Homo sapiens: one gene and its partner. The protein of the gene in region 1 interacts with the protein of each later gene in a biochemical or structural test. Each region holds a gene or a part of one and is shown on either strand. Other genes may lie near its edges.

Region 1 (3,500 bases):
ATGTGGTTTTAATAGATCCAAGGCACTCATATTTTAAAACCAAATGATAGAATAAACTTGTTCTGTTTTTCTGTTAATTTGTCAATTCAAGGCCTTTTTTCTTCCTTTCCAATTGATACATTTAACCCTTTAGAGACAGACATTTAGCTCATAGAGATTTTTTTTCAGTGCTATCTATTCTGTCTATAGAGGGTTAATCCAAAGACTGTTTTTCCTCCTCACGTTATAAAATAAAACTGTACATGATATGTATTACAGAATGTATGCAGCATGGTCTTTTTCTCTCTCTCTCTCTTTTTCTCTCAGAACGGAACTGGAAACAGCAACATGTTTGCTCAGCAACGAATTAGGGACAATTTAAAATAGCCATAACATACCATACATGCTGTCTAAGTTTAAAAAAAAACATACACAACATGTAAATTATTGCACAAGAGAAAGGCTCAAAGTTTGCGTAAAATGCAATAGTATTGCCCCATACAGATCATGCATTCAAACGGTGAGAACATAAAGGAAAAAAAAAAAAAAGGAAAAAGAAAAAAGAAAAAGAAAAAGAAAAAAAACAGGTGTGCTGGTGACAAGCACTCTCATATTCTTAGCTTCGTTACTTCTGTTTGTTTGTTTGTTTGTTTAAATCACATGGGACTAGAAAAAAATCCTACAGGGAGTGGGGCTGGAGGGCGATGGGGAAGGGGAGTGGTGAAAAAGGGGGTGTCAGGTGGGAGTGAGGGAGGGGTATTAATATACCTCTATTCAGTTTTTATATCATTATTCAACACTCGATCACTGTGCCATTTTTTCATGTGTTTCTCCAGGGTACTGTACACGCTAAAAGGCATCTTACAAATTTCACATTTGTAAACGTCCTTCCCCACCTGGCCATGCGTTTTCATGTGCCTGGTGAGCTTGCTACTCTGGGCACAGGCATAGTTGCACAGCTCGCATTTATAAGGCCTTTCGCCCGTGTGGCTTCTCCTGTGGACAGTGAGATTGCTACAGTTCTTGAAGACTTTCCCACAGTACTCACAAGTGTCGCTGCGTCTGCCCTCTTTTGAGCTGGGCCTGCCCGGGCCCGGACCACTAATATGGGGCGTGCTCCCTCCACTTCCCGTGCCGCTGCGCCCCGAGATCCCTCCGTCCAGCTCCCCGGGCGGTGTGGAGAAGCGCAAACTCCCGTTCTCCGAGGAGTGCTCCGACGAGGAGGCAAAAGGCGATTGTCTGGAGTCTCCGAAGCTAAGGAAGGGATCTTTGAGCTGCCTGGAGGCCGCGTAGCCGGCGAGCCACTGCGAGTACACGTTCTCCGTGTTGGGCATCGCGGCCGGGGGCAGGTCGAACTCCTTCTCGAGCTTGATGCGCTTAGAGAAGGGGCTCAGCGAGCTGGGGCTGCCCAGCAGCAGCTTTTTGGACAGGCCCCCCGAGGCCGACTCGCCCGGGGAGCAGCCGCGGCCATTAACAGTGCCATCGTCTATGCGGTCCGACTCGCCGGCCACCGAGTCTTCGTCGCAAGTGTCCCTGTGGCCCTCGGCCTCGGCCAGGTGGCCGCGCTTATGCTTCTCGCCCAGGACCTGGTGGAAGGCCTCGCTGAAGTGCTGCATGGAGCTGAGCACCATGCCCTGCATGACGTCGGGCAGGGCGCGGCTCTCGTCGCCCACGCCCACGACCGCGCCCCGCGAGCTGTTCTCGTGGTGGCGCGCCGCCTCCAGGCTCAGCCCGAAGCCGTAGTCCACCCTCTCGCTCTCCGTCAGCTCCTCCTCCTCCTCTTCCTCCTCTTCTTCCTCTTCCTCGTCGTCCTCCTCTTCCTCCTCGTCCCCGTTCTCCGGGATCAGGTTGGGGTCGTTCTCGCTCTTGAACTTGGCCACCACGGACTTGAGCGCGCTGCTGGCGCTGCCCACCAAGTCGCTGGTGCCGGGTTCCGGGGAGCTGGCGGTGGAGAGACCGTCGTCGGACTTGACCGTCATGGGGGACGATTTGTGCATGTGCGTCTTCATGTGGCGCTTCAGCTTGCTGGCCTGGGTGCACGCGTGGTCGCACAGGTTGCACTTGTAGGGCTTCTCGCCCGTGTGGCTGCGCCGGTGCACCACCAGGTTGCTCTGAAATTTGAACGTCTTGCCGCAGAACTCGCATGACTTGGACTTGACCGGGGGCTGGGAGGGAGGAGGGGCGGATTGCAGAGGAGGGAGGGGGGGCGTCGCCAGGAAGGGCGGCTTGCTACCTGGCTGGAATGGTTGCAGTAACCTTTGCATAGGGCTGGGCCGGCCTGGGGACAGCGGTGGGCTAGACGTGTTCCCTGCCAGCTCTCTAAGTCTCCTAGAGAAATCCATGGCGGGAGGCTCCATAGCCATTGGATTCAACCGCAGCACCCTGTCAAAGGCACTCGGGTGATGGGTGGCCAGGGCCATCTCTTCCGCCCCCAGGCGCTCTATGCGGTGGGGGTCCAAGTGATGTCTCGGTGGTGGACTAAACAGGGGGGGAGTGGGTGGAAAGCGCCCTTCTGCCAGGCCGGAAGCCTCTCTCGATACTGATCCTGGTATTCTTAGCAGGTTAAAGGGGTTATTGTCTGCAATATGAATCCCATGGAGAGGTGGCTGGGAAGGACATTCTGCACCTAGTCCTGAAGGGATACCAACCCGCGGGGTCAGGGGACTTCCGTGTTCGCTTTCTAAGTAGATTCTTAATCCATGAGTGTTCTGTGCGTGTTGCAAGAGAAACCATGCACTGGTGAATGGCTGTTTGCAAGTTGTACATGTGTAGCTGCTGGGCTCATCTTTACCTGCAAAATAATACAACACCAACATCAATGTTTAATCACTGAGGCGGGCATCAGCAATTGCTTATTTATGTTCCACCTCCAGCCTTCCCTGCCCCCACCCCTCAACCCCAAGGCCTAAGCCCTCACTGACCTACCCCCTGTGCCTGGCACGTCTGAGCATGGGTACCCAGTAAATATTGGTCCAATTGATCTTCCTGCCATTAAACTCAGTTCTAGAAATTTTATATCCAATCCCCAAAGCAGAAAAATCCTGACCAGTTCTGGCTTGAGGATGAAGGTCCCTACATTCTAGGCACCTCAACAAATGTCTTCTAAACTTTCCAGTTCCATCAGCTGTAGTTTGGGGCAAGCCATCTCATCTCCATGTGCCTCTGTTTCCTCCTTGTTAAGTGAGAAACTTGGACAAGGTGACCCAAGGAAACTTTTTGGCTTCCTAAATCCCAGCTTTCTATTCCCCCCTGGGTGACAGGTGAACTTTCTAAATAGGCAAACATTTCATAGAGGTATCAAAAAAGGGGAAGAAGGTCAACTCACTACAATGTTCTATGGCCCTAAAGATGCTTTCAGCATTAGCCTGAAACACACTAATTGTTGATATTGTTAAAATGAGAGGGTACTCATAAAATACTTCCGTGGAAAAAAGACTAGCAACATTCTCACACCCCAGACTGTGGGAGGATCAGTGAGTCCCAATTTTGGTTCCACAACACCCCATGGGGACGTCCATTTT
Region 2 (3,500 bases), on another chromosome or scaffold:
CATGCACCTGGCTAATTTTTTTAAATTTTTTAATTTTTATTTTTAGCAGAGACGAGGTCTGGCTACAATGCCCTGACTGGTCTCGAACTCCTGGCCTCAAGTGATCCTCTCACTTCAGGTGTGAGCCACAAACAAAACTTATCATTTACTGTAGGAATATAATCCCCAGGGCCAGGTACGGTGGCTCACACCTGTAATCCCAGCACTTTGGGAGGCAAGGCGGGTGGATCACAAGGGCAGGAGTTCAAGACCAGCCTGGCCAAGATGGTGAAACCCCATCTCTACTAAAAATAAAAAAATTAGCCAGGTGTGGTGGTGGGTGCCTGTAATCCCAGCCACTCCGGAGGCTGAGGCAGAGAATTGCTTGAACCCGGGAGGCGGAGGTTGCAGTGAACCAAGATCGCGCCAGTGCACTCCAGCCTGGGCGACAGAGCGAGACTCGTCTCAAAAAAATAAAAAATAAAAATATGAAATATAACCTATTTTATTTTTGAGATGGAGTCTTGCTCTGTTGCCCAGGCTGGAGTCCAGTGGTACGATCTTGGCTCACTGCAACCTCTGCCTCCCGGCAGAGCAATTCTCTTGCCTCAGCCTCCCGAGTAGCTGGGACTACAGGCACGTGTCACCACACCTGGCTAATTTTTGTATTATTAGTAGAGACGGGGTTTCACCATGTTAGCCAGACTGGTCTTGAACTCCTGACCTCGTGATCCACCTGCCTCAGCCTCCCAAAGTGCTGGGATTACAGGCGTGAGCCACCGTGCCCAGCCACCTGTTTTATTTTAAAAAGACCTATTAAACTTAAAAGTACTAAAAAAAAAAAATCATAATTCCTAAGCATGTATCTACTGGGTAAATCAGGATGCAGTTGAAATTCCTGCTTAGCCAGGTGCGGTGGCTGACGCCTGTAATCCCAGCACTTCAGGAGGCCAAGGTGGGCAGATCGCCTGAGGTCAGGAGTTCGAGACCAGCCTGGCCAAAATGGTAAAACCCCTTCTCTAGTAAAATACAAAAATTTGCCAGGCGTGGTGGCTGGCGCCTGTAGTCCCAGCTACTTGGGAAGCTGAGGCAGGAGAATCGCTTGATCCCAGGAGGCAGAGTTTGTAGTGGGCCAAGATCATGCCTCTGCACTGCAGCCTGGGCAACAACAGAGTGAGGCTCCATCTCAATAAATAAATAAAGTCCTGCTTAAACTTCAGGTTGAGCTGGGAGGATCATTTGAGATCAGGAGTTCGAGACCAGCCTGACCAAGATGGTGAAACCCCATCTCTACTAAAAATACAAATAATTAGCAGAGCTGATGGCACACACCTGTAATCTCAGCTACTCAGGAGACTGAGGCACAAAAAATCACTTTAACCTGGGGGACAAAGGTTGCAGTGAGCCGCGATCACACCACTGCACTCCAGCCTGGGCAACTGAGTAAGACTCTGTCTCAAAACAAACAGACAAAAAAACACTGCAGGCTGGCACAGTGGATCATGCCTGTAATCCCAGCACTTTGGGAGGTGGAGGTGGCAGGAAAGCTTGAGGCCAGGAGTTCAAGACCAGCCTGGCCAACAGAGAGACCCCATCTCTATACAAAAAATTAAAAATAAAAAGTCAATTTCCATGTGTGTTTACTTTAAATAACTAAAACAATTTCAGAGACAGCCCTGCATAGGTCATTAAAATTGTGATGCTGTTTTTAATAAAAATCAAATACCAACTATAGTAGAGCTTACAGATAGAGTGTAGCTTTACATAATTCTAGTGACTCACAATTCAACTTCTACATTATGTTTTTAGGTTCCTTGTTTCTTCCTTTCCAACAAACTATCCCTCCTCTAACTGTCCTTCTTAAACTCTCAAACTTGATTTACAAAAATCCCCAAATCTGTTTAAAATTTTTTATAATGCCTCACTTGCTTTCAAAAATAGTTAATTCACAAAGAGCAGATCCAAATACTGCCATTTCAGGTGTCATTGATTTTCCAGAAAACTTAAAACTCCCAATAAGGGTAACAACCCTAGTGCAAAAAGGACTCACATATGCTACATTTAAAGTAACAAAGCACTGGGCTGTGGCTCACGCCTGTAATCCCAGCACTTTGGGACGTCGAAGTGGGCAGACTGCTTGAGCTTAGGAGCTGAAGACCAGCCTGGGCAACAAGGCAAAACCCCATCTAAAATTAGCCAGACATGGTGGTGCACACCTGTAGTCACAAACACACAAACACACACACACACACAAACACACAAACAAACACACACACACACACACACACACACACAGCTAAGCAACTAACATTTTTATTTTGAATAATGAGGGTGGGTAAAGAACAGTAGACTTACCTGGTAAAATTTAACAAGATAACTAAAACATGGAAATTATATGTATTTTAACACCATAAAAACTGATGGTAAAATAATACTAACACATGGGAAAATACTACATTACTCTCTGAACAAAATAACTATACACAAAATAGTTTTCTTTAAATTGATAGTGACAGAAATACTATTAGGAATTTCCGGGTTTGGGAATTGTTTTCTTCTCTCTGGATTTCCAGATTTTCTACAGGAACACTGTTGTCATTTATCCCAAATTTCCCATCATATTCATAGAGTACATACTGATCTATCATTTTTGTCACTTACATATTTGTTTCTCAAACCAAAATAAAATGGTACATAATACATATATAATATCACAGGTCAAAATGCTCTAAAGATTTGTTGTAACAAGGTTCAAAAAAAGCTTCAAATTGCCCACTATCTACATGGTCACTGAAGTATAATGGCCAACATACCATCAATTTAGAACAGAGAGACAGGGAAGGGCAGTAGAAGTAATATTTGATTAATCAATACTCAATAAATTAATACTTAGAACTATTGGAAGGCAGTAACTTGAAAAGTTAACTTCAAATGGTAAATAAGTAAGGCAATGCTAATCTGGTAAAATCTAAACAGGCATATAACAGGTTATATAGAAAGCTGAGCTTTTAAGGTGCAGAGGAGGCTCCCAAAGGAATGGTAAAACAAAATCAAGATTTACTGAGAGAACAGTGTTTCAACTAATTACATCAGTTACTTCTTTAACCATAACTCCGATTTGAAGTGACTCAGAATTTAGAGAGCCAAAATATAATTGATAGAAATCAACCAGAAAATGACTACTAGAGATCAACCATCAAACAACGTGGTTTGGGTATTGCAGGAAATAAGACTATGAAAATTGAGTAAGTAATATAAAGTTCGTATTTATAATTCATGCAGTGTACGTAAGAAGGTTGAGAAAAAGGAAAAAAGCCAAATTACACTTTCAGAATAAAAGTGATTACAAGAAGAAAGAATTGTGCCATTTTTATTATTCATAGCAAATCATCTTACAGGTAATCCATTTCTAGATCTGGGACCTTCCATTTCTTAAAAAAAGTTAACAAAACGAAACAAAATTCTGAATATGGGAGTAAAAGGTTTCAACTATCTTATCCATGGCCATGAAAAACTCATGA

Evidence for each region.
Region 2: the proteins of BCL11A (region 1) and G3BP2 interact in a biophysical measurement, tested with the Homo sapiens proteins (one large-scale study listed by IntAct).

What each region holds. Positions count from the first base shown.
Region 1 is NC_000002.12:60,459,655-60,463,154, forward strand, and holds part of BCL11A (BCL11 transcription factor A), read right to left. Parts: intron 2,771-3,500; coding exon 750-2,770; 3' UTR 1-749. UniProt on the Homo sapiens protein: Transcription factor. Associated with the BAF SWI/SNF chromatin remodeling complex. Binds to the 5'-TGACCA-3' sequence motif in regulatory regions of target genes, including a distal promoter of the HBG1 hemoglobin subunit gamma-1 gene.
Region 2 is NC_000004.12:75,663,412-75,666,911, forward strand, and holds part of G3BP2 (ras GTPase-activating protein-binding protein 2), read right to left. Parts: intron 1-3,500.